2 separate regions of the Homo sapiens genome follow, and region 2 is linked to region 1. Evidence: fine-mapped expression QTL. A gene starts in region 1. The other region holds a variant in brackets. All regions are shown on one strand. Distances are between the middles of the regions.

Evidence for each region. PIP is the estimated chance that this variant, and not a neighbour inherited with it, causes the effect.
Region 2: its variant is fine-mapped to the expression of DGAT2 in whole blood (TOPMed, PIP above 0.99).

The regions. Positions count from the first base shown.
Region 1 is chr11:75,762,967-75,775,088 of GRCh38, forward strand. DGAT2 (diacylglycerol O-acyltransferase 2) reads left to right here and starts at 5,812. Exons shown (of 8, transcript NM_032564.5): 1 at 5,812-6,146. The coding sequence starts at 6,026. DGAT2-DT (DGAT2 divergent transcript) reads right to left here and starts at 5,681. Exons shown (of 4, transcript NR_046090.1): 1 at 5,528-5,681; 2 at 1,277-2,027. RefSeq lists enhancers at 3,589-3,808, 5,115-5,615, 10,370-10,519, 10,660-10,889 and silencers at 5,702-5,811, 5,892-6,131.
Region 2 is chr11:75,791,757-75,803,878 of GRCh38, forward strand. DGAT2 (diacylglycerol O-acyltransferase 2) reads left to right here. Exons shown (of 8, transcript NM_032564.5): 5 at 4,572-4,776; 6 at 5,402-5,576; 7 at 6,471-6,673; 8 at 8,598-9,778. The coding sequence ends at 8,752. Among named protein-coding and RNA genes, the nearest start is that of UVRAG-DT, 17 kb to the right of the region's middle. RefSeq lists a silencer at 5,355-5,404. The variant C/A (reference allele first, on the strand shown) is at 6,516.

The DNA of each region.
Region 1 (12,122 bases):
CCCCACCCCCCAATTCCTGCAGGGAAGAGGCCTTGAGAGAGTTGAGTAAGAAATAAGCAGGCAGAATGATGCAAGGGGAGCTGTCTGTACACATTGCAACAGAACTTTCTAAAACAAGCCTGGGGCTGCTCCCAAGGGTCTCAGTCCTGCCCTATTCCTCTACTGTCATCCAGACCTGTCACACAAGATAGGGCCAAAGGCCATTACCAAGCTCTGCTAAGGCCTGACCTTAGAGCTGGGAGGTCTGTGCTCTTGGGTTCTGGTTTGAAACCCGGAGCCATCTTCAATCACCCCCTTCCTTCCTTTCAGCCCTACATCCATGCCATCAAATCCTAGAGACTCTAAAGCTTCAGCATCTCTCAAAATCACCCTCGCTTCTCTTTTGCCTTGCCACCCCTTCAGTTCAGGCTCTGTCGTCATTATCTCTCTCCTTCCTCTCATCTGCCTCCCTCCCTTCCATCCAATATCACCCAGGTCCCTGTGGGTTGTCTGTGCCCCTTCAGCAAAGGCCACAGCTTCCATGTGGCAGCCCTCTCCGCTCAGCCCCCATTGCACCTGCAGTGTCCTTCTCTTAGTCCTTCAGGCCAGATCCCCTGTGAGGTGACTAGTCCTGGGCTACTGCACCATCCCTTGAGTTTTCTCTATAGCCTGCTTACATCTTTGCAAACAGTCTTTGTATTAAACTGTCCTCAAATTACCCAGTTTGGGTGGGCTGTTTCCCATAGGGACACTGACTAATATAAGGTAGAGGTAGTTAGGAAGGGTGCCATGGAGATGACAGTTAAAGATGTTCTTGCCTGGACAATGATCTTTCTAAAGCATAAAACTCCTGCTAAAAACCTCTATGGCTCCCCATTGCCCTGAGAATAAAGTCCAGACTCTGTAGCCTGCCACCCAAGACTATATACCATCAGGCCCCTGACCACAAAGCAGCAGCAGCATGTGGGGAAGCCACCAGGAAGAGGGAGAGTAGGGGGCTTGGACGTGGGAGGCAAAGACTTCCAAGAGGAGTGCAGCCATGCCACACAGCTGCTCTGGCTGGCAAATTCCTGTGAGTAAGGAGGCGGGTGAGTTTCCAGGCTAGAGGGCCATGCCAGGCTGCCTCTGCTTGCCAGAACCCTGCCCGCCCACTCTCCAAGTGAGTTGAGCACTGAAAGGAGTTTAACCCCAATGGGCCCTAGCCTTGTGGCATGAGAACTGGTTACATCCCAACCCCATCTGGTAAGCTATTGGATTCCCTGAGCTTTCATTTTGCCAACTGCAAAATGGGACTAACCTCCCAGGGCTGTGGAGGCGATGGATGGGAATTTGCTTTCGTCCAGTAGTTCTGCTGTTACAGGTGCTCCCTCTCCCAGCCTTGGGAGGCAGGAAAAGCGTACAGGTTTGAGGCTCTGGAAGACTTGGTGTGAATCTCAGCTTTACTACTTACTCCTTGTGTGATCCAGGACAAGTCACTTTACTTCCCTGCACCCCATGTGCAAAGCGGTGGGGGTGATCACCCCTTGTGTGGTGGCTGTGAGGACTGGGCAAGCTCACACAAGCCAGGGCCTAGCACAGAGCAGGGAGCTTGATACACGTTTGTTTCTGTCTTTCTACCTGTGCCTCTCTTAGGGCAAGTGTCCTCTCTGCCTTATAGGCTGGCCACTTACCCTCCTCATGTGTGCAATGGAGGAGCTAAGACTGCTATCACTGAAGCATATCTCAGAGGTGCATGCGTCAAACCTCTCACAAGCTACAAAGCTGCACGTGTAATCCCCAATGGCTGTACAACACTGGTGATTGAAGTGGGTGGAGGATGAGCCATCCTTGTGGATGCCTCTCTGCTCACACCCCTCCTTTGGTCCATCCCCCAACAGGATGAAGTCCAAGCTTCTTGGTGGGACCACAAAGCCCACCCTGGTCAAGCCCTTCTTGGAGGCATGACTTGACCGGTCTCTGATTTTCCCAATATACACATGGGTTGAGAGATGATGAAGGAAAGGTAACCAGGTCCTAGAACACATTCTCAAGCTGTTCTGCTCACACACCTGCAGGAAGGTCAGGGCTGGTCATTATAGGAGGCTAGGAATGTCAAGAAGCATGGGAGGGGGCCAGGAGAAGTCAGAGTCTGGTGTAAGTCCCCCTTGCCCAAACTCACACAGGGGAAAACAGTCCCAGGACACAGGAAGCTGCCATGAAACTTCCTTTCCAGGCTACTCTAAGTTTGGGTCTGGTTTTCCTTCCAAATCCAATTTGGACCAAGCTGTTTAAGCAGTACCCATGGGCATGGCGGCTGGAGGCCAAGGGGAAGGAGTGTTCTAGAAGTTGGGATGCCAGGGGCTGCTTGCTCTGTGAGGTGGCACAGAAGTAAGCAATTGTGCCTCTCAGCCCTTGGACTCACCTCTGCGTCCTCTCACAGATGTTCCCACACAGGAAGGGCCCAAGCTGGGGACCAGATTTTATGGCCCTATTCCCCAAGCACCCACCTCCACCCCAACAACCCAGCTTATCTTCCTTTTTTTTTTTTTTTTTTGAGTCTTGCTCTCTCGCCCAGGCTACCAGGCTGGAGTGCAGTGGCACAATCTCGGCTCACTGCAAGCTCCATCTCCTGGGTTCACGCCATTCTCTTGCCTCAGCCTCCCGAGTAGCTGGGACTACAGGCACCTGCCAACACGCCTGGCTAATTTTTGTATTTTTAGCAGAGAGGAGGTTTCACCGTGTTAGCCAGGATGGTCTCGATCTACTGACCTCGTGATCCACCCGCCTCGGCCTCCCGAAGTGCTGGGATTACAGGCGTAAGCCACCGCGCTGGGCCCCAGTTTATCTTTCTAACCCACCAATCCAATCAAGGTGCATCTCTGCTCACACCCCTCCTTTGGTCCATCCCCCCACAGGATGAAGTCCAAGCTTCCTGGCAGGACCCACGAGGCCGTTCAGATCTGGGCCCTGTCAACCTCTCCAGCCTCATTTCCTACCCCTCTTCTGCCTGTATCTTTCTTTCAGCCACACCAGGGTGCTCACAGGGTTCCTACCTCCAGGCCTTTGTCCATGCTGTACCCTCTGCCTGACACCTTTCCCCTTTCCCCCTGCCTCACAGAATCAGACTTCTCATCTTAGGTCTGCAGCAATATCACTTCTTCTTGACCTTCCCAATTTACCATTCCCTCTACTTCCTCTATGACTCTACTATACTTTTTCAGGGGGCAATCCACCTTGGACTAAGCGTCTATGCCGAGCTAGGCCCACACTGGGACATAGAGTGATGAGGTTCCTGCCCTTGGGAAACGCCTGGCTCCGTGGAGAGGCAGGCAGACAGTGACAGCACAGGGGGAAAGGCCAAACTTGGCATAGCCTTCCATGTTACCCTGTGCCACAGGCTGGCTGTCTTGGGATCATTGGCTTTAGGACACCATCTCTCGATTGGGTCTCCTCAAAGCCAAGGACTAAGTCCGATTACTCTCTGTGTCCTAACCAAGGCCGGGCCCAGAGAAGGTGCATAGCAAAAATGTGCTGAAGTAGATGAACTTGGGATCTGAATGTTTCAAATAGGCCTTGGTAACCCCAAATCTTGCCATTTAAGACAATGATCTCTTACATTACAGCACAGTGATAACACTCTTTTACATGCTGTGATTTCACTTCATCCTCAAATACTCAAGTGAAGTCAGCAAAACAGAAACTGTCACCTCCATTTCATAATGCAGAAAAGGAAACCTAGACAAGATAGCGATACTGACTTGCCCAGGGTGAGTGGGTGGGCCATGAGTTCCAGCCCAGGCCTCCTCCACAGGAGACCCTTCTGGAGCAGGCACGAGCCACAGACTGACCTGGGATCTTCCAGGCCAGCAGGAGTCTTGCCTCCAAGAGCACCCTCTCTGAGGAGAGGATGCCAGGATTTACTGGCACCTTCAGTATCCTCCTGGCTTCACTCCTCTTTGCCCAAAAACAAACCACACCTGTTTCTACCTCCCAGCCTTTGCACTTACCAGTCCCCATGTCTCCCCCCATCCCCCACATGTGGCATGCCACTAGCCTACCCTCAGTTTCCTAAAAGGCACTAAGATCTTTCCAGCCTCATGGCCTCACCACATGCTGGGAGCTCTGCCTGGAATGCTTTTCTTTCTACTCTTGGCCAATTCGGGCCTTGGGGCCCAGTAACACGGTTGAGAGATTTACTCCTGTGGCCTTGAGAGGGCTGAACAAATGGAAGCATCTCTAGGTTGCACCAGAGGCATCTATTACCTGCTGCCCTGTGCCTGTAACTTCTGTCATTCTCCTCTCCCCCTGTGAGAACATGATAAAGACCACAAAGGCAGGGAATTCCTCTCCTCTTATGCTGTGACCCCACAGCTATCTCGCTCCAGCTATGCCTAAGAAATCTGTCTTATCACTGACATGCTTGTTGTCCCCACTCGTTCCCTGAGCCTCCATCCAACAAGTCGCTCCACCACATGCTGGTGGATCTCGCTTCCTATGCTCTTCCCTAGATCAGGCCTTCCCTCCATTCCCTCTACCACTGCCGTGCCTTGAGGCTCATCCTCTCTCACATGGATCCCCCGCCCCTACAGCCTCCCCACTGCCCTCCTGACCTACAGCCTCTCCTGTCCATTTCCCATACCATGGCTAAGGACACTTAAAACCCACCTGACCAGCCATTTCCCTACTAAAGCTCTCCCAAGACCCGGCTCCCCCCCAATATCTCAAGAGTGGCACTCCCAAACCTCTCTCAGTTCAAGCACCCGCGCCTCTCACTTCAGCCTCATTTTCCACAGTTGCCTGGGCTCCAGCCACTCCAGGGCCCCCAGCCCTGCCCCAAACATGCTGGCTTTTCTAACACTTTATGCCTATCTTTCTGCTTTGCCCTCACACCTTCCATCTGCAAAATTCCTATTCATTAATGGGCAAACCATTCTGGAATGCTTTCTATGTGCCAGACACTACCTAGGCTCTTTTTATACCTTATCTCATTTACTTCTCAAAGTACCTCACAAAAATAATAATTATTATTCCCATTTTACAGATATGGAAACTGAGGCTCAAGAGAGGCAGGGCAAGAACTGGACTCCTAGTCTATCTGATTCCAAACCTGCTGTGCACCAACCTCTCTGGGAAGTGCACCAGCGCCCCCACTCCCCCAGCCCAGGGCAGAGTCTTCTCTACTCTGTGGTTCCATAGCCCCCTGGTTTCTCGCTTGTCCCGGCCGTTGTCACCAGTGACTGTGTGCGGCTGTCTCTGCTGCCCCCCAGCGTGAGCATCCCAAGGGCAGAACCTGGGCTGATCTGGCTGGGTCCCCAGCACCCAGCAGGGTATAGGTGCTCTGTGAGGTTTCTTAATAAAGAGATGGAAAGCCAGAAGCAGTTTGGGTGGTTGAGATACCCAGCCCTAACCTAACTAATCCTGATACCAGTGACCAAAAGCGGGACCTTCGCATCTTTGCTGCCAAAAGACAGCCCCTCCTAAAGAGTAAAGGCCCGACCCCCTGCACGCCCTCTGCCTGCACCGCACGTGCTTGGTTTTCCCCGCCCGGGTACTGGCCGCCGGGCCGTACCAATCTCCGCGGGGGAGCGCCCGGGGTCGGACTGAGGGAGCGAGGGGAATAACCGGGCGCGCCCCTTGGAAGCAGGGCTCAGAGCTGCTCTCCTCTCACGCATTCCCCGGATCCGCGCGGAGCAGGCTGCTGGCCAGCCCCGGGCCCGCGCCAAGCAGAGCCTCAGGTGCGGTTCCCCCACAAGCAAGTGGCGCGGGCGGCGGCTTAGAACGGCCCGCCCCGCCCGCCGCGTCGGCGCCTGCCCCGTTGTGAGGTGATAAAGTGTTGCGCTCCGGGACGCCAGCGCCGCGGCTGCCGCCTCTGCTGGGGTCTAGGCTGTTTCTCTCGCGCCACCACTGGCCGCCGGCCGCAGCTCCAGGTGTCCTAGCCGCCCAGCCTCGACGCCGTCCCGGGACCCCTGTGCTCTGCGCGAAGCCCTGGCCCCGGGGGCCGGGGCATGGGCCAGGGGCGCGGGGTGAAGCGGCTTCCCGCGGGGCCGTGACTGGGCGGGCTTCAGCCATGAAGACCCTCATAGCCGCCTACTCCGGGGTCCTGCGCGGCGAGCGTCAGGCCGAGGCTGACCGGAGCCAGCGCTCTCACGGAGGACCTGCGCTGTCGCGCGAGGGGTCTGGGAGATGGGGTGAGTGCCACGGCGCAGGGGTTATGGACCTGCGAGAAGATTTTCTGGAAAGGGCCCTGTGGCAGGCTGGTGGGTACTGATGAGTCCACGTTCATTCTCCACTGTGGCACTCATCAATTTTTACGACCTCTGTTACATCGCTTTCCACCCGCCCCCCAGCTTGTTTCCCTCATCCGTGAGGTGGGAGCGGTACCACCCACCATTCTTAGTTATTAGGGATATTCGAGAACTCCTCCCCAGCCCCCACTGCGGCTGGTGACCCCTGGCACTTCCCTCCCCTCTCCCTTCACCAGGTAGAGCGAGCTTTGGCAGTGATAGACTGGATGGGCAGGATGGTATGGGTTTTGCCGTCTCCTGAGACAGCCACCAGACGGGGAACATGCCCGACTGGAACAGGTGTGTCTGCCCTGTCCTCTGTCCCACATCCATCCTCTCGCCCAGGCTCTGGAGCCCACATAGCAGCAACTCTTGAGCCTGGCATGCTTAGAAGGCAGCGGAGAGGACCCTGCATGTCCTCCAAGGTAGAACTGAGGTCCTCAGTGAATCGCGCAGAGTTGAAATCAACCCCCGCCCCGCACCCCCCGCAGCTTTTCCCAAGCGAGGAATAGCAACTCTTCCAACCCCCACCTCCCTTACCTAGAGCTGGAGAAACTGAAGTGGGAGGAAGCATGCCTAAGTTTTCCTTAGCTGATGCCTTGACCCCTGGATTCAAGTACAAATCCGGTAGACCCTGGGAAGTCATCACAGCTGTCCTGGTCTGCGTGTGTGTCTTGCATGAAGCCCCTCTCCCTCTTTCTAAGTCTGTATTCTGTTTGCTGAGCCTCTCTGACATGGATTTTTCTTTAGTAACTAACGGTCGCCTACACCGCCCACCTTTGTTACAAAAATAAAGCTTGCTAATTATGGAATTTTTGAAAATATAGACAAATGAAAAAAATTTCTGGTAAATCGACTATCCAAAGATACCTTCCTATTAGCATTTTAGTATATCTCTTGATCATTTTCTTTATACACATTGCATAGATACAATTGAGGACATGCTGTAGATATAGTTATGAATCTTGTTTTCTCCCCCTTAATGTAACATCGAGGTTTCCCTTCTGTTAATCAGAATCACTTACAATGTCCTAGTGGTTGCAATAACCCACCCTGCAGCTGTACCACACTTTAACTGTGACCTAGGCATTGGCATTGCTTCTTGTGTGATTATCGCTGTGGTTATCTGCCCCTCTTGGTGTGGGTGCTGCTCGTAGCCCTTGAAGAGGAACCCAGCTGCTGCCCTGTCTCGGGGGCGAGCAGCTTGAGCTGCCCCATGTATCCAGCCAGTAGCCTCTGACAGCCCCTTCTCTCACTTGAGTCCTTTTCTGTTCCCTGTGTCCTTTGATGTCCTTAGGGACATCAATGGATGAATGGACTTGCCCTTGTTCATGCTGTTAAAAATGTTTTTGCACTGGGCAGTGGGATAGGGATGTTCTCTGTGGTAGTGCTTCCTGGAGACCCCATTCCGTCGGCTCTGCCATCCACAGGCTGGGAGCTGTGTCTTCCAGGAGGCAGTGACCCTGGCTGTCATGTTTTTGACTTAGAGTTTGTTCCTTAGGAGAACTTGTACTCTAGCGAATGGTTTTAACCAAGCCACTTAATATCATGTCAGGAACATTTCCCCATGTTGTTATCAGATCTTGAAAACTTTTTTTTTTTTAAACTGGGTGCAAGGATTTACATCATGGAATGTAGGAAGGGCTGGTATGAAATGCAAACCAGTCAGTTCAGCTTTCTGGGATCTACTTTGGTGAAAGATTGGGTGGAGTAGGGGAGGGCACTGAAGCACATTTTGTTATCTGGGCATCTCCATTAGACCTGCCTTCTAGATCCTTGGTCCTTGAAGATACTCCCCAGTGGCCTAGTTTGCCTCTGTGGGTAAGGTCCCACTGTTGTGAGCTGGTGAACAGCCCGTCAGTGACAGTATTCAAGTAGAGACCATGGATTCTGTGAAGGGAAGTCCTGTGACGGGTGAGAGATTGAAATAGATACCTTGGCATCTGGTTTCTTGGCCAAAAAAAAAGGCCAGCTGTGGGAGTATGGGTAGGTGGGTGCATGCTGGGGGAAGCGGGAGTCTGTGTTGATATTTCCTAATCCTTGGAGGGCTGTCCTGTGCCAGACGTGGAGTTTGCAGAGTTCATCAGGACAGGAGGGATATATATCCTATTCTTTATCCTTGCCTTTGGATTGGGGGCTCTTCGTTCAGAAGAGCCCTCTGACACCTGCCTGTGTCCTCAGGGTTCAGCACAGGACCTAGCATGAGATGTTGGTGGTCCCAGTAAAATTTTGAGCTGATTTGTTGTGTGCGGCTCCAAAGAGTGAGGCCAGGAATAGGAGTGGGATGATGGGTGCAAGTTTTGATGTAGCAGAGGAGTCCTTTCTGACAGCTGTTGAGGACTGCAACAGGCTGGGGTGGGTGAGGATGGAGTTCCACATCACTGTGGATCTGCTTGAAACTAAGTGGCTAGATTGTTGGGGGTAACTGGGAACTGAGGGTTGACAGTCACCTAACCTAGTCCTAAGTCAGAATGAGAACATTACTCTCATGCTTCCCTCTCCAATTCCGTGTGGCTTCCCCCCTCACCTACATCACTTCCCCAGCTGAATAGAGGCCACTTTGGGGCTGCGTCACCAAGGGCTCATCTAGGCTGAGAAAGGAGGGCCAAGAGTAATGTTGTATTAACAGGCTCAGTGACTCAATGGTCAGTGTTGAAATCCTGCCCCACCTCCACCCTCCTGCCCTCAAATTCAACAGCAAGTACTTGAGTTGTAAAAATTAGTGCTGGATCGGGCCCAACCCTCATGTTACAGATGGGATCACTGGAGTCTCCAGAAAGAAGGGACTTTCCCAGGGTTATCAAAGCCAGGCTAGAACTCAGATCCATCTCCCAGTCTGTGGCCTGACTCCTTAAGCCAAGAGAAGGGTTGCAAGGCCGTGAAGGGCTGAGTGCAGGGCTCTGTGCATTGTAGGTGCTCAGTGGTTTGCTGAATGAGTGAAGGTTGTCTCCATGGTGCGGGTGGCAGCTCATCCCTTCTCAAACTTTTTGAGGAAGCTCCCCAAGCCTGCCCTAGTGGATTAGAGCACTAAGATCCCCCAGAGCTTTGGCTGCCAGGTGAATGCCAGTTGCCCCCTACCCACACTCAGTCACACTTCAGACTTTCCAAACTCTTCCTCCTGGCCTATGAAGTAAGCCCCAGGTGAACAGCCTCCACTGCCATCACGACTTCCTCTCCTAGTATGTCACCCACCATGCTGCAGACGCATGGTGGTCTTCCTGTTCCTGCAGCATTACTCCCAATTCAGTCTTACCTCAGCGCCTTTGCATATGCTGCCTGTCTGCCCAGGTCTTCGCATGGCTGGCTTTACAACAGTCAATCTCCTCTCAGAGGTCTTCCCTGGCCACCCTATCTAGAGAGCCACTTCCAATCTAGAGAGCCACTTCCAATCACCACATCTTCTTTTATTTTTATAGCCTTTATCACTACCTAAATTTTCATGCGTGCTTATCTGTTTAAGCAATTGTCTCCCCAGTAAGAATATCAGTCCCTTTGCCGGCCGCGTGCCATGGCTTTCGCCTGTAATCCCAGCACTTTGGGAGGCCAAAGTGGGAGGATCACTTGAGGTCAGGAGTTCGAGACCAGCCTGGCTGACATGGTAAAACCCCTGTCTCTACTAAAAATAAAAAAATTTAGCCAGGTGTGGTGGTGTGTGCCTGTAATCCCAGCTACTTGGGAGGCTGAGGCAGGATAGTCGCTTGAACCCAGGAGGAGGAGGTTACAGTGAGCCAAGGTTGTGCTACTGCACTCCAGCGTGGGTAACAGAGCGAGACTCCATCTCAAAACAAAACAAAAAGAACAAACAGAAAAAGAATATGAGTCCCTTGGAAACAGGAACCTTGTCTGTCTTTCTCAGTGCTGTGACATCTAGCACAGTGCCTGGCACTGGTAATAGGTACTTAGTAAGTATCTGTTAAACGAAGGAATCATTAGTGGGACTGCCCCATTCCTCTTGGAGGAAGCCCTGCTTTTAGCTTCAGTGTGATTCCTCGAGCCTTCCTTGGGCCTCCTCTGTCCCTGTAACCACCTGTGCTAGGGACTGGGTGCTGGGGTTGTAGCTGTTCCCTGCCCTGGAGGTACCCACAGTCTGGCAAGGAGCTGGCTCCAAGGCTGAGTGGCAAGTGGGCAGAGCCAGTCTCAATGGTCACCCTTACTGCTTCCCAGGGCTTATTAGAAGCCCGAGAGCTGGGGTTCCAGGCCTGACATTTTTCTGGGATGTGGCTGGGGGCTTCACTTCCTCTCTGGGGATCTCACTCCTTCTATCTGGAAAATAGGGTCAGAATTCTCAGATTCTCAAGGATGGAGGGTTTGAGTTAACCTGAGTGTGAGTGTTTGTGAACTTGTGACATTCATGTTAGTCCTTGTCATTTGTCCTGTGTTACACATTCAGCAGGCCCCCAACACTGTAGAGAGTGGCAGACCCTGCTCTAGGGCATCCAGGAAGGCTTCACTGAGGAAGGGACTTGGGGTGTGGACCCTTCATTTTATTGATTGAGCACCTTCTGTGTGTCAGCTGCAGTCCCTGCGTTTGAGGAAGTGAGACCAGGGGGATGTACACAAGATGACTGTGCAGAGTGATCTGAGCAATGACAGGAAAGACTGCCAAGAGGTGAGACCGGGGAGCTTGATCACCCTGAGGTCAGGGAAGTCTTCCTGGAAGAGGTGACATTCAGTCCGGATCTGGAAAGATGAATAGACATCAGCAAGACAGGCAAGAACATTCAGGTACAGGAAATAGCATAAATAGAGGCATGAGATTTGGATGGGAGAGGCAGACTGACTGCAGGGCCTCTGAGTGACCAACTGAGGCTGAGGTCTTGGTGTACTGAGAGCCAGAGACAAGAGAGACAGAGAGGATGCTGGATCCAGGCCTGTGGTGGCTCACCTGTGTCTGCAGCAGGAGGAAGACTTGAGAGCTCATGGGAAAGGAGCCTGGTGCAGTTAGTTTATTGGCCTCCAGCACTTTGAGGGCCTCCTGGTATGGAGCTGCTGGCTGATTTGAGGGCCTCATGGGCAGGGCCCAGGGGTAGGAGTCAGGCCTGGGCTCTGTCCAGCTCCTGCTTGGCCACCGAACTGCTCCGCAGCCTCAGCAAGCCACTACCCTTCCTTACCCTCAGTCTCCTCATCTATGAAATGAGCAAAAGTGTCATAAGAACCTGTGCAGATTATGGTGCAGATGCAGACAGGCTACACCCTGTGAACCTTTTGGGTAAATCAATAGAAATGGGAAACACAAACTCCTTTTCTTATTAGAGCAGAATTAGCCATTCTAAGCCCTGCCTCTGCTTCCCATGTGACCTTGGGTATAACACTGCCTCTTAGGGCCTCAGCCTTCTCATCTGCACAGTGAGGAGGACTGGTTGAGATGACCCCCTTGGCTTCCTTACATCCCTGCTGGAGAAATGCGATTCCATTCTTGTCCCTAACTGCTGTGGGACTCTTGAGGTCAGCCACCTCCTCATTCTTGTCCTCAGCTTCTCCTTGTGAAAATGGTGCACTCATCCACTTGGGGCCAAGGTAAGTGCCCCAGAAGAACCTGTCTCCCCATGCTTGCCCATATATTGTGATGGGGACGTATTTTGGAGATTCCTTGGTGACCTACTCGCAAGCTAGTAGTGTTGCCATGGCAGCCCCTTCCACTGCAGTAGCTACTTTTTGAATGTGCTTGGTCACAGTGGGTGGGGTGGGGGAAGTGGGCCCCTGGGGTCCTCAGCAATCATGTCCAGGGTCCTGGATGTAGATCCATGTTCGGTATCAGGAACATGGCATTCTAAGAGTCTCACTTCCTTGGCCTTACCTCTTGGAACTTTGTGAAAGTTCTACTTGATGAAAACGGAATACACAAAAACCCAGGTGTATGGAGTAGCCCGAGGATGGGCT
Region 2 (12,122 bases), 29 kb after region 1:
CCTGCCCTGTCACTCCATTTATTAACCTGCCACCATTGCTCCCTGTCCAGTGCAGGGCTGTGCTGGGCATGGGGACACAAGTCAGCCCTGCCCTTGGGGTGTCTATTGCATCCTGATAGACTTTGTCACTTTCTGCCATGGGGCCATGGGCAGACTTTCTCAAGCCTGCTGAGCCTCATCTGCAAAATGGAGCTGTCTGTATGATGAAAAGTAATCAGTTCTGATTGGGTGGGAGTGATGATAGACTGTTCTTTCTGCTTTCTCTCTCACCTCAGGGGCCAGGCTCCAGTGTTCTCTGTTGCCACTGTGGCCTGGTCCTCTGGAAGTCTCCAGGAGGCCAGTAGCCCCATCCACTTAGAACAGGATGACCTGATGATTGTTGGTCAGACCTGGGACAGGCAGGTGTCCTTTGCTATCTGATCTCCACCCTTCCAAAAGAACCAAACAAACCCCTGTGTCCTTCTCACATCTCTGTTCCAAGAAGTCAGCTGGGAGTTGGAGCCTTAGGGCACATACAACCTGGCCCTGTGAGGGCTCCCTGGGGCACTAGGACAAAAGCCAAACTGGGCCCGAGGCAGGCTGGGGTGTTGAGCCTCAACCCGGGGCTTAGGCTGATCAACCCGGGGCTTAGGCTGAGCCTGCCTCTCTCCCTCTGGGCCTCAATCTCCCCTTCACTTGGCCTTGGTGATCTGACATCAGGTCTGACACTCTATGGGGGTGTGTGTGACCCTCCTGTCCCACCCCCTTTTCCTGGCCTCTTGCCAGTAATCATGTAATGAAGATCTGCCGCTGTACCCACCCGCCCACCTACTCCCTTCCTGGTGGGACTCTGGTCTTTGCTGCCAGAACAGCTCATCTGGCCCAGAGTGTATCCCTTCTGTTGGCACAGGTGGGGTTCTTGTGTTAGCAACAGCCACCGAGACCACCAGCCACCTGGAAGAGGAGCAGACAGTGCCCCACATCACCTCTCCCCAAAGTGTAGGCAGAATCCTTGGAGAGGAGACTAGGAAACACTCTCTCTAAGCTTAGAATCACCTGTCCATCTGCCTCATTTCACTGATAGGCTTACTGAGGCACAGAGAGGAGGGACTATCCCAAGGTCACAAAGCTTAAGTAGTAGCAGGACTAGTGTAGGAACCAGGGCTGTCTGCTTTGGGGCCCATGGTCTTACTCCTGTGTTACTTTCACCATCACCATGCCGTGCTGTGTAAACTTAAGCAAGCCTTTGCTCTTCTGTGGGTCTGAATTTTTTCCTCTATGCACTGCTGTGGTGGGACAAGCCTATCTGAGCACCTTGCCTCTCCTGGGAGGGAGGGTATAAAGAGTGACTTGATAGGAATGTGTCCCAGACTGACATTAGCGAGCAGGCCGGGCCTGGGCATCGTGTTGGGCTGGGACTTTGCCACGGGAAACAGGCAGCAAGAGGACACAAGAGCAGGCATGTCAACAGAACCTTCATTGGCGGTATCCTTCCCCTCCTTCCAGAACGGACATTCTCTCCAGCCCTGGGGGAGGGGAGTGTGACATGAAAACAGATCAGAGCTGGTCAGATGCCTACATTCTTCTGGGTCCTACAGCAAGGGCATTGACTTGCACTGTGTCCCAAGGCACCTCATTCAACCAAATGTCCCATCAGAGCCTTGGGGAGGGAGGAAATGATTTAAAGAGCCACCTGGGGCCCACTGGGTGACACATCTTCATCCAGCAGCCCAGGGAAAAGTGCAGCGACTGGCCTGCTCCAGATGTGCAGGATAATTTGCTGTGACCTCCACAGGGGAATTGCAGCTCCCTTTTCTAGGCCTCAGCTTCCCCCCGTCATCCAAGGAATGGCTTAGACCTTTCAGGGCTCTGCCAGCCCATGCAGTGCTGTGGGTTCCTGGTTATCGGCCCAGTGGGAAGGTCGGGGGAGCCATAGGAAGGGGACAAAAAGATGCTGCACGGCGTGATGGTCACCTGCCAGGGTAACTATCCCAGGCCTGGCCATCAGCTCAGGAGCAAGTTTCCAAGTTTCCCACCTGGTATTGGCTGCCCCAGCTCTTCCCTCAATGCCTGCCTGCCTTTTTCATCAAAACTAGCACAAGGAACTTTTTAATTCCAGCTTCACTGAGAGCTAACTTGGTGGGCAGACCTGCTTGTTAGGCAAAACATTGGAACAGCAATCTTAACAGAGCTCATGTAAACGAGATTTTGAGATCTGCTCGCTGCCCCGAGCCCCACTAGCTATGGATTAGACTGCTGCTGTTTCCCATTTATTTGGGGAGTAGCTGAGAGTTGGTTTGGTTTTTGAGCAACTTTAATCTGTTTGCCAAGGGCAAAGCGGGAGAAAGAGCATCAGTGCCCCAAGCAGTGGGGATGAGAGTGAGGGAGTCTTGCTCACATTTGCACAGACTGGCAGCGTCAGAGCTGGGAGTGGTGCCAGCCAGCCTTTTCCATCCCCTCTGTCACCTGAAGATTTGCATTTCAATTTTCCAAGGCCAGCCACCAGCACCCTCTCCCCCAGAGCTGCACACAAGTCCTTCAGCTCTGCCAGGAGGCTCCCAAATCTGGAGTCACAGAAAACCTGGGCTCTTGACATTCTGCTGGTGGCCAGTGACTCTGCTTCCAGCTGGCACCAGTGCAGGGAAGGGGCACTTTGCAGCACTCAGGTGGGAGTGTCATTGATGTCACCTCTTTTGAGGCAGGGCAGCCAAAAAGACCAACGTGTTCATTCCTTGTTATCCAGGAATTGTATTTCTAGAAGTTTGTTTCACAAAAGCAATCAGATATGTGGACAAAGATAAGGTATTTATTGAAGCATTACTTCTAAGAGGGAAATTTTGGAAGCTTTTAAAATGTCCATCAATCAGGGTTTGAGTCAGTGCTGTTACATGCATGAGAGCTGTGCTGTAGAATACAAATGCAGCCACGAGAAGATATGGAACTGAGGGATTTTGATAAGGACAGATAGCTGTATGTTTGGTAGAAAATGATATAAAAATGATATCAACCCATATAACCTCAATTTTGTGGGTTTTGAAAAAGAGCATGTATATTTTTGAGTAGAAAAAGGACTCAATGCGTCAGATGGTTTTATCTGGATGGAAATATTATGGATTTTTTAAATTTTCTTTTTGCTTTCCTATATTTTTAAAATTCTCTAGGAGTTTCTCTTCTTTTCCCTCTCCCCTCCCCTCCCCTCCCCTCCCCCTCCTCCGTTCCTCTCCCCTCTCCTCCGTTCCTCTGCCCTCTCCTCCGTTCCTCTCCCCTCTCCTCTCCTCTCCCTTCTCTCCTTTCTTCCTTTCCTTCTTTCCTTTCTTCTCACTCTGTCACTCAGGCTTGAGTGCAGTGGTGCAATCTCGGTTTACTGCAGCCTCTGCCTCCTGGGCTCAAGCCATCTTTCCACCTCAGCCTCCTGAGTAGCTGGGACCACAGGTGCGTGCCACCATGCCCAGTTAATTTCTGTATTTTTGTAGAGATAAGCGTTTCACCATGTTGCCCAGGCTGGTCTCAAACTCCTGAGCTGAAGCAATCCTCCCACCTTGGCCTCCCAAAGTGTTGGGATAACAGGCATGAGCCACCATGCCTGGCCCTATTATTTTTCTAATCAGAATAAAAATGATGTTTTTATGAGCAGAATACCCTTACTCATTGTCTCTCTCAGCCTCTTCCACCCCCATCACATTCCTTGTAACACAGGGTAGGTGTCACAGGCTTTGCCTCTCATGACTCAGGGTTTAGGGACACTGCATCACCCACCCCTTCAAGCACCAGCCCCAGGGCAGGAGGTGGGCCCTGAGGAAGCCAATCATCGTTTAGAGCATCCCAGTGTCCTTAGTACCACAGGTCAGGTCCTCAGCTGCTGCAGCCTTACAACTAACCTCTACCCCAGGCTGGCTGGCACAGGGCTGTCGCTTGTCCTGTCTTGTCCTTCCTGCCTTAGAACCTGAACTGAGCCCAGCTGACTGTGGGAAAGTTTCCATTTGGGCCAGCTGCAGTGTCCCTTTTCCAGGCCAGGGGAGTAGGAGGTGGGCTGCCTGTCTCATTCTGTGAGCTGTGGAGGAGCCCACAGAGCACAGGGCCAAGTAAACCCTACCTCCAAGGAGCTCACAGTTTGGAGAGACTGACAGTGGGGGCAGAGCTTGCAGCCAAGGCCCCGGTTGCCAAACTCAGGAACTTGGACTTTACTCACATGAAGCCAGACACACTCTCCAGTCTAAGAGTGACAAGGGTTGGATTTGAGTTTTAGAATAATCACTCTGGCTGTTGCGAAAAGGATGGGCCCAGAGGGAGGGAAGGCAGGAGGCTGGCAGAGTGCAAAGAAGAGCTGCTGTGTGCATGGCTGAAGACTGAGAGGAACAAGGGCAAACATTGCCCACCCCTTCCCAGAGACCCACAGTGCAAATGGTGACTGCCCAACACCAGCACTGTGGCCCTGGGGATGAGAGTCTGAGGTAAGGTGTGGAGATTCATTGCAGCCCTCAGGCCCATGGAGGTCCAGGGGAAATGACACATCCAATCCCTCCCTACCCTCCGGGTATGCCCCGGTATCCCTCTCCCAGCCAGTTTCCTCTGACCCAAGGTCATCCTTGCAGCTGGTGAAGACACACAACCTGCTGACCACCAGGAACTATATCTTTGGATACCACCCCCATGGTATCATGGGCCTGGGTGCCTTCTGCAACTTCAGCACAGAGGCCACAGAAGTGAGCAAGAAGTTCCCAGGCATACGGCCTTACCTGGCTACACTGGCAGGCAACTTCCGAATGCCTGTGTTGAGGGAGTACCTGATGTCTGGAGGTAAGAATCCACCCCCTGTGCTCCTGCTGGGCACTGTTGTCAAGGCCTGAGCCTCTCCATCGGGCAGGGTGACACAGGGAGCCAACACACCATTCCTTGGTGCTGGGCCTGCATTGGGAGATGCAACCTGCTTCAGACATGGTGGGTCAGGGCTGAGGAGGAGAGCTGTCCATATGGTCTTGAGAATTCAACTCGGATAACATCTTCCCTAGGAGGCCTTCTTTGACCCCCTTTTCTGGGGACCCCCAGCCCTTGTGTTGCCTTTTGTACAACCTGATTGTTGTCCATGGCACTGTAATTGTCCACCTGCCTGAGACCTCCCACCAGACTGATGCATTGGGATCCCCAACACCTCGCACCGACTTGGCAGAATTAGGGCCCTGGGAATGTTTGCCAAATGCATGAGTTCCCAAAACAACCTTGTATCATTAGCTGCATTTTACAGATGAGGAAACTGAGGCTCAGAAAAATGAATAGCTTACACAGAACCAGACAACTCCAAAGGGGCTGGGCTAGGTCTGGGGCCCAGGTCCAGGGTTCTTTATGTTTTATACCTGACTGTGTGCCGGGGATGGGGAGTGGATCCATGGGCAACCCTGACTGTTGCGTCCTTCCCTCCCCTCAGGTATCTGCCCTGTCAGCCGGGACACCATAGACTATTTGCTTTCAAAGAATGGGAGTGGCAATGCTATCATCATCGTGGTCGGGGGTGCGGCTGAGTCTCTGAGCTCCATGCCTGGCAAGAATGCAGTCACCCTGCGGAACCGCAAGGGCTTTGTGAAACTGGCCCTGCGTCATGGGTGAGTGCCTCCCTACACACACACACACCCCTCCAGTGCCCCTCAGCCCAGGGCAGCAGACTCCTTGGCCCCTGAAGACAGGACCCAGACCCCAGGAAGGCATGGAAGGGAGTCAGTCATTCTGTTAGGGAGGGGATGTTGGAGCCCAGACTGCACAGTGTGGGCCAAGTTTGCCCATGTGTGTCTGGGTGGGCACAGATGCAACCTGTGGCCTGTGGGCCCTTGCAGGTGGGCCGAGAGTCCAGGCTTATATGCAGGACTGGACCACCTGGGGCCAGAATATATCATTTTGCTGGGAGACCAGGAGGTCAGGAAGGAGGGTGGTGTGGAATGTGGCTGGGGGACAGCAGCTGTTTTCTCTGTCCCCTGGGGACCTTACCTCAGGCTTTGGAAGAAGAGGCTGCCCTGCAGGCTCAGCCCTGGGCCAGCCCCTGGGGACACATTCATATTGGACCCAGTCCCTGCCTTCAGGGAGCACCAAGGGTGGGGGAGGGTAGAGGGATGGACAGTGACAACACAGTGTGCTGAGACTGTGAAACAATGGTGAGTCCAGGGCTGAGAGAGGCCTGGTTTGGTGGAGGGACCAAGAGAACTTCCTGGCAGAGGCAGGCCCTGCAGGAAGAGGTGGAAAACAGGCATTCCAGAGCAGGGCGCTCAGCCTTCCCTTTGCCTGGGGGACCCAGAGCTCTGATATGCTCCCCAGTCCCTAGCAGTGGGGCAGAAGGCCCATCAGAACCTGGTAGAGAGGGATCATGTGAACTTGGGACACCCAGGTAATTCTGGTACACCCAGCTGGGGGAGGGGGATGCTTGGCCAGTGTCCAGGGCCTCTAGGCTGACATAGAAACTGAAGCCAGTAAGTAGGGTATGACAGACCCTGGCCTCTCCCTTCCAGAGCTGACCTGGTTCCCATCTACTCCTTTGGAGAGAATGAAGTGTA[C/A]AAGCAGGTGATCTTCGAGGAGGGCTCCTGGGGCCGATGGGTCCAGAAGAAGTTCCAGAAATACATTGGTTTCGCCCCATGCATCTTCCATGGTCGAGGCCTCTTCTCCTCCGACACCTGGGGGCTGGTGCCCTACTCCAAGCCCATCACCACTGTTGGTAAGCCCCTAGCCTGCAGACCAAGGGCTGTCCTGAACACAGGGTGCCATACAGCTAATCAGCAGTAGAGACGGGATTCCAATGCAGGCCACCTGGCTCTGATGGCCATGCCCTTAGCCATGAGGACTTTGAAGTGTTGGGTGCTGATATTGGTCAGGAGGGGTAGTAGTAGGAGTCGGGGAATTGAGCCTATGGGATGAACCAAGCTCTGTGATAAGTGAGGAAAGAAAATCTGCAGTCTCTGGGTTTGCAGCACCCACTAGTCTATCAGGGAAGACTATTGCAGCAAAGACTAGTGGGGGAATGTGATGAGGATGCGCAGGTGCTCTAGGGAGTCATAGCGGACCCCAGGGAGGAGGTAACTCTTGCACTGCTAACTGATAGGAATTATCTAGCAAAATAGAGGAGGAAGAGAATTTTTATCAGAAACAATAGCCTACGTGAAGTTCAGAAGCAAGATTGTGTAGTTTTTTTGAAGAACAGAAAGAAAAACATTAATATGACTGCAGCATAGACCTGTCAGAAGAGTGGAAAACACTGGTTGCACTTGGCCCTCGTCTGTGTTGTTTTGGGTGTATTTGGGACCATTTAGAGGATTCTAAAGAATTACCTATTGTAGGTGTGTGTGTGCATGTTAATGGATCCCCCAGGAGCACATGGGCCCTTGGCAGTGGACTTGAGGGGCCAAAGCTCACACAGATCCTTTGCGTTCCTAGGCCAGGTGTCCTGCCTTGTACTTTTAGGTAGAGACAAAGCAACAGGGAGGCAGCAGGAACATTTCCATGCACAGGTGTGGCTGGGGAGGGGCTGGGTCCTGTGGGCAATGTGAAGGAATTTGCTCTTCACCTTGAGAATGGAGAGCCACCAGAGAGTGTTTGGGAGGGGAAGTTCAGATTTGCATTTAAAAATGATCCTTGGAGCTGCTGGATGGAAGATGGGTTAGAAAAATGGAAGCCACGAGACCAGCCCAGAGACTGTTTTGGTAGCCAGTGGCTTGGACCAAGGGAGTAGCAGTGGAGATGGAAGAGATGTGCATGATTTGGGAAAAATTTCAGAAATAGCATTGGCAGGACATAGGAATGGATTGGGTATGGAGATGCAGCAGGATAAGAAAATAAAGCAACGCACAGATCATAAATGCTGGTCTACTCCCTCCTCTCCTGCCCTTAACCACACTTTTTATTTTTTTTTTTTTTATTTTTGAGACAGGGTCTCATTCTGTCATCCAGGCTGGAGTGCAGTGGCGCAATCTCGGCTCACTGTAACCTCTGCCTCCTAGTCTCAAGCGATCCTCCCACCTCAGCCTCCTGAGTAGCTGGGACTACAGGCGTGCACCACCACACCCAGCTAATTTTTTGTATTTTTTTTTGGTAGAGACGATTTTCACCATGTTACCCAGGCTGGTCTTGAACTCATGAGCTCAAGCAATCTGCGGGTCTTTGCCTCTCACAGTGCTGGAATTACAGGCGTGAGCCACCACTCCTGGCCTACACTTTTTAAAGCATGTCACATTCCTTGCAGAATCCTTAGAAAACCCCTATGAGGAAGAATCCCCATGTGACAGATGAGGAAACTGAGGGTCAGAGAGGCAGGAATGGCTTGCCCAGAGCAGAGCAAAAGCAAAGATGTTTACTTGATCCCCTGACTCTCATAGACCCTCCTAGCAGAATGCAGTGGGTTCAACCAGTCTTGATCCCATCTGCAGCTTAGCACCTGGTGGCCTCGGGTGGGTCCCTTCACATGCCCCTGGGCCTCAGTCTTTTCATCTGTAATAGGGGACAACCAGAGATGCAGCACATAAAGCATTTGGCACAGTTCCTTCCACATGGCGGGCCCACAGCCCAGCGTCACCACCTTCAGCATCATGGTGGATGCCCAGGGGAAGGGTGTTGACTAACCAGAAGCCTCTGCCCTGTCCCTGCAGTGGGAGAGCCCATCACCATCCCCAAGCTGGAGCACCCAACCCAGCAAGACATCGACCTGTACCACACCATGTACATGGAGGCCCTGGTGAAGCTCTTCGACAAGCACAAGACCAAGTTCGGCCTCCCGGAGACTGAGGTCCTGGAGGTGAACTGAGCCAGCCTTCGGGGCCAATTCCCTGGAGGAACCAGCTGCAAATCACTTTTTTGCTCTGTAAATTTGGAAGTGTCATGGGTGTCTGTGGGTTATTTAAAAGAAATTATAACAATTTTGCTAAACCATTACAATGTTAGGTCTTTTTTAAGAAGGAAAAAGTCAGTATTTCAAGTTCTTTCACTTCCAGCTTGCCCTGTTCTAGGTGGTGGCTAAATCTGGGCCTAATCTGGGTGGCTCAGCTAACCTCTCTTCTTCCCTTCCTGAAGTGACAAAGGAAACTCAGTCTTCTTGGGGAAGAAGGATTGCCATTAGTGACTTGGACCAGTTAGATGATTCACTTTTTGCCCCTAGGGATGAGAGGCGAAAGCCACTTCTCATACAAGCCCCTTTATTGCCACTACCCCACGCTCGTCTAGTCCTGAAACTGCAGGACCAGTTTCTCTGCCAAGGGGAGGAGTTGGAGAGCACAGTTGCCCCGTTGTGTGAGGGCAGTAGTAGGCATCTGGAATGCTCCAGTTTGATCTCCCTTCTGCCACCCCTACCTCACCCCTAGTCACTCATATCGGAGCCTGGACTGGCCTCCAGGATGAGGATGGGGGTGGCAATGACACCCTGCAGGGGAAAGGACTGCCCCCCATGCACCATTGCAGGGAGGATGCCGCCACCATGAGCTAGGTGGAGTAACTGGTTTTTCTTGGGTGGCTGATGACATGGATGCAGCACAGACTCAGCCTTGGCCTGGAGCACATGCTTACTGGTGGCCTCAGTTTACCTTCCCCAGATCCTAGATTCTGGATGTGAGGAAGAGATCCCTCTTCAGAAGGGGCCTGGCCTTCTGAGCAGCAGATTAGTTCCAAAGCAGGTGGCCCCCGAACCCAAGCCTCACTTTTCTGTGCCTTCCTGAGGGGGTTGGGCCGGGGAGGAAACCCAACCCTCTCCTGTGTGTTCTGTTATCTCTTGATGAGATCATTGCACCATGTCAGACTTTTGTATATGCCTTGAAAATAAATGAAAGTGAGAATCCTCTATGAGTTATTGCTGGGGCTGCATCTGCATCTGCTGCTGACACCTGGGGAAGACTGGGTCCCCAGCTGGCTGCCCTCTGAGCCCTCTAGCCCCTTGCACCTTTGGCCCACATGACCCTGCCATGGTGTGTAAGTTACCTGTCACTGTGTAACAAACTACTTCAGAGCTCAGTGGCTTCCAACAGCATCTGTTGTCTCCCAGTTCCAAGTCACGATTTGAGGCTTGGCTTGGTCCTCCACTCAGGGTTTCTCACAGGGCTGCAGTTGTCTTGGAGCCGGGCTGAGGAAGGATCCACTCCCAAGGCCGTTCCTGCAGTTGTTCGCAGGATTGACTTCCTCACTGGCTGTTGACAGAGGCCACTTTCAGTTCCTTGCCACATGGGCCTTTCCATGGGGTAGCTCACGGCACACCAGCTTACTTAGCAAGAAGAGCCAGTGAGTGGAGTGAAGTGTGCGAGCAAGACGGAAGTCCCAGGCCCTTATAACCTAACCTGGGAAGTGATATCCTGTCACTTTTGCCATATTCTGTTCATTAAATGAACATTGCTCGGTCCAGCTCCCACTGGACGGGAGGGGATTACACCAGGGAATGGATGCCAGGGGGCAGGGGTCATTGGGAGCCACTTGACATGATGCCTACCATGTGGTAAAGGGCTCCTGTCCAGCTGGGGGGCCCTTGGGTGGCTGAGCTGGAAGGCTCCTTATGGGTCACTCAAGCTGTGTTCCCTGCCCCTGGCCTCAGCTCTACCAAAAAGGCAGAGGCCTGGCCTGCTGTCACCCTAGCGATTACAAGATGCCACCTCTTTTCTAATTCCTTTCTGTTCAGTGAGTACTAAGCACCTGGGAACCCTTCCTAGCCGAGACCAAAGGACCTTGTTCTAACTTCCTTACTGCCAGAACTGTCCTGCCTGTCCTTGCTGTTCATCCCCCTCAGGGCCAACTCCTCTGTGCCAGAAACTGTGAGAGAGCTACTTGGGAGCAGAGACAAACATTGGGAACAGCTGAAGATACGCAGGGTGGCCAGAGCTGTGCCAGAAGCCCCAGCCTGCCCGGGGGTGCGTCACTGAGGAAAGAACGCCTGAGCTGGGCCTTGAAGGGCGGCTGAGAGTCGCCAGGAAAGGAAGGCAGTGAAGGGCAGAGCAGTAGGGGAAGGATAGGGAGGCCTGATTGGAAAAACATTGCCGGTTTGAAAGATGGAGGAGGCAGAGACAGCAGTGGGGCTTAGCTTGGAAGGGTGGGGAGCTGGTGTCTCCAGAGTTTCTATGTGGGCAGAAAGGCAGAGCAGTGGGAGGAGTGCTGGGAGGGGACAACAGAGGCTGGCTTCTAGCGCCAGGCAGGCCTCAGGCTAGAGTGCTCAGGTCAGAGGATAGCCATTTCCTTTCGGATGGGGTAAAGGCCTTTTTTCTGGTGAGGGTCTCAGCATCACCCCAGCCCCAGCCTGAGGCTGACCCAAGGCTGGACTGCAACCTCAGTCTCTGGCTTCAAGTCAAGCCCTGGCCCTAACGAAGCTACTCCACCAAGGTAGGCTGTTATTCTCAAGCACTGCTTTTTGTGAAGAGTGAGCACCTTCTGTGTACTGGGGAACTCCGCCATCTGCCTAAGAAGAACAGGGACAATAACTGGGTCCCAAATCTCAGACAGATGCCCTCAGTGGCCTGATCAGAGCTGAGACCACCCTGGTCTTAAGCTGTGCATAGGGCAGGGGGGACTCTGATAGGTTCTGTGAACATTGCCTTGGGATGGGAGTTGTTACCTTGGGAGAAGGAACTGGAACCGCCTTTCCCCCGAAGACCACCTGCCCCTGGGTGTAGTGGTGAGGGCAGCACTTTGAGACTGAAGATGGTCAGTTCCATGATTCTGTCTGTGGTTCCCAGATACAGCCACAAGGGGGCACTGAAGATGGCTCTCAGGCATAGGCCACACTGCGACTTAGGCTTGCTTTCCACATTTTCACATCTCTCCAGCTCCTTACCCAGGCTAAAAGCTAGGGTGTTTCACAGATAAAGATATTTATTAGGTCAAATTGGCTTATCACGTTGTTCAAATATCCTCTTTCTTTGTTGGTCTTCTGCCTAATTGTTCTATCCATTATTCAGAGCAGGGTATTGAATTCTCCAACTGTTGTTATTGATTGATGTCTCCCTCCAGTTCTGTCAGTTCTTGCTTCATGTGTTTTGGGACTCTGCCGTTACCTGCATGCGTGTTTATAACATGTTTATGTTATGTCTTCCTGATGAATCCACGCTTTATCATTATAAAATGCTGCTCTTTGTAGTAACAGTTTCTGTCTCTAAGTTTACTGTGTATAACCTACATTGGTACAGCGACCCCAACACTCTTTTGTT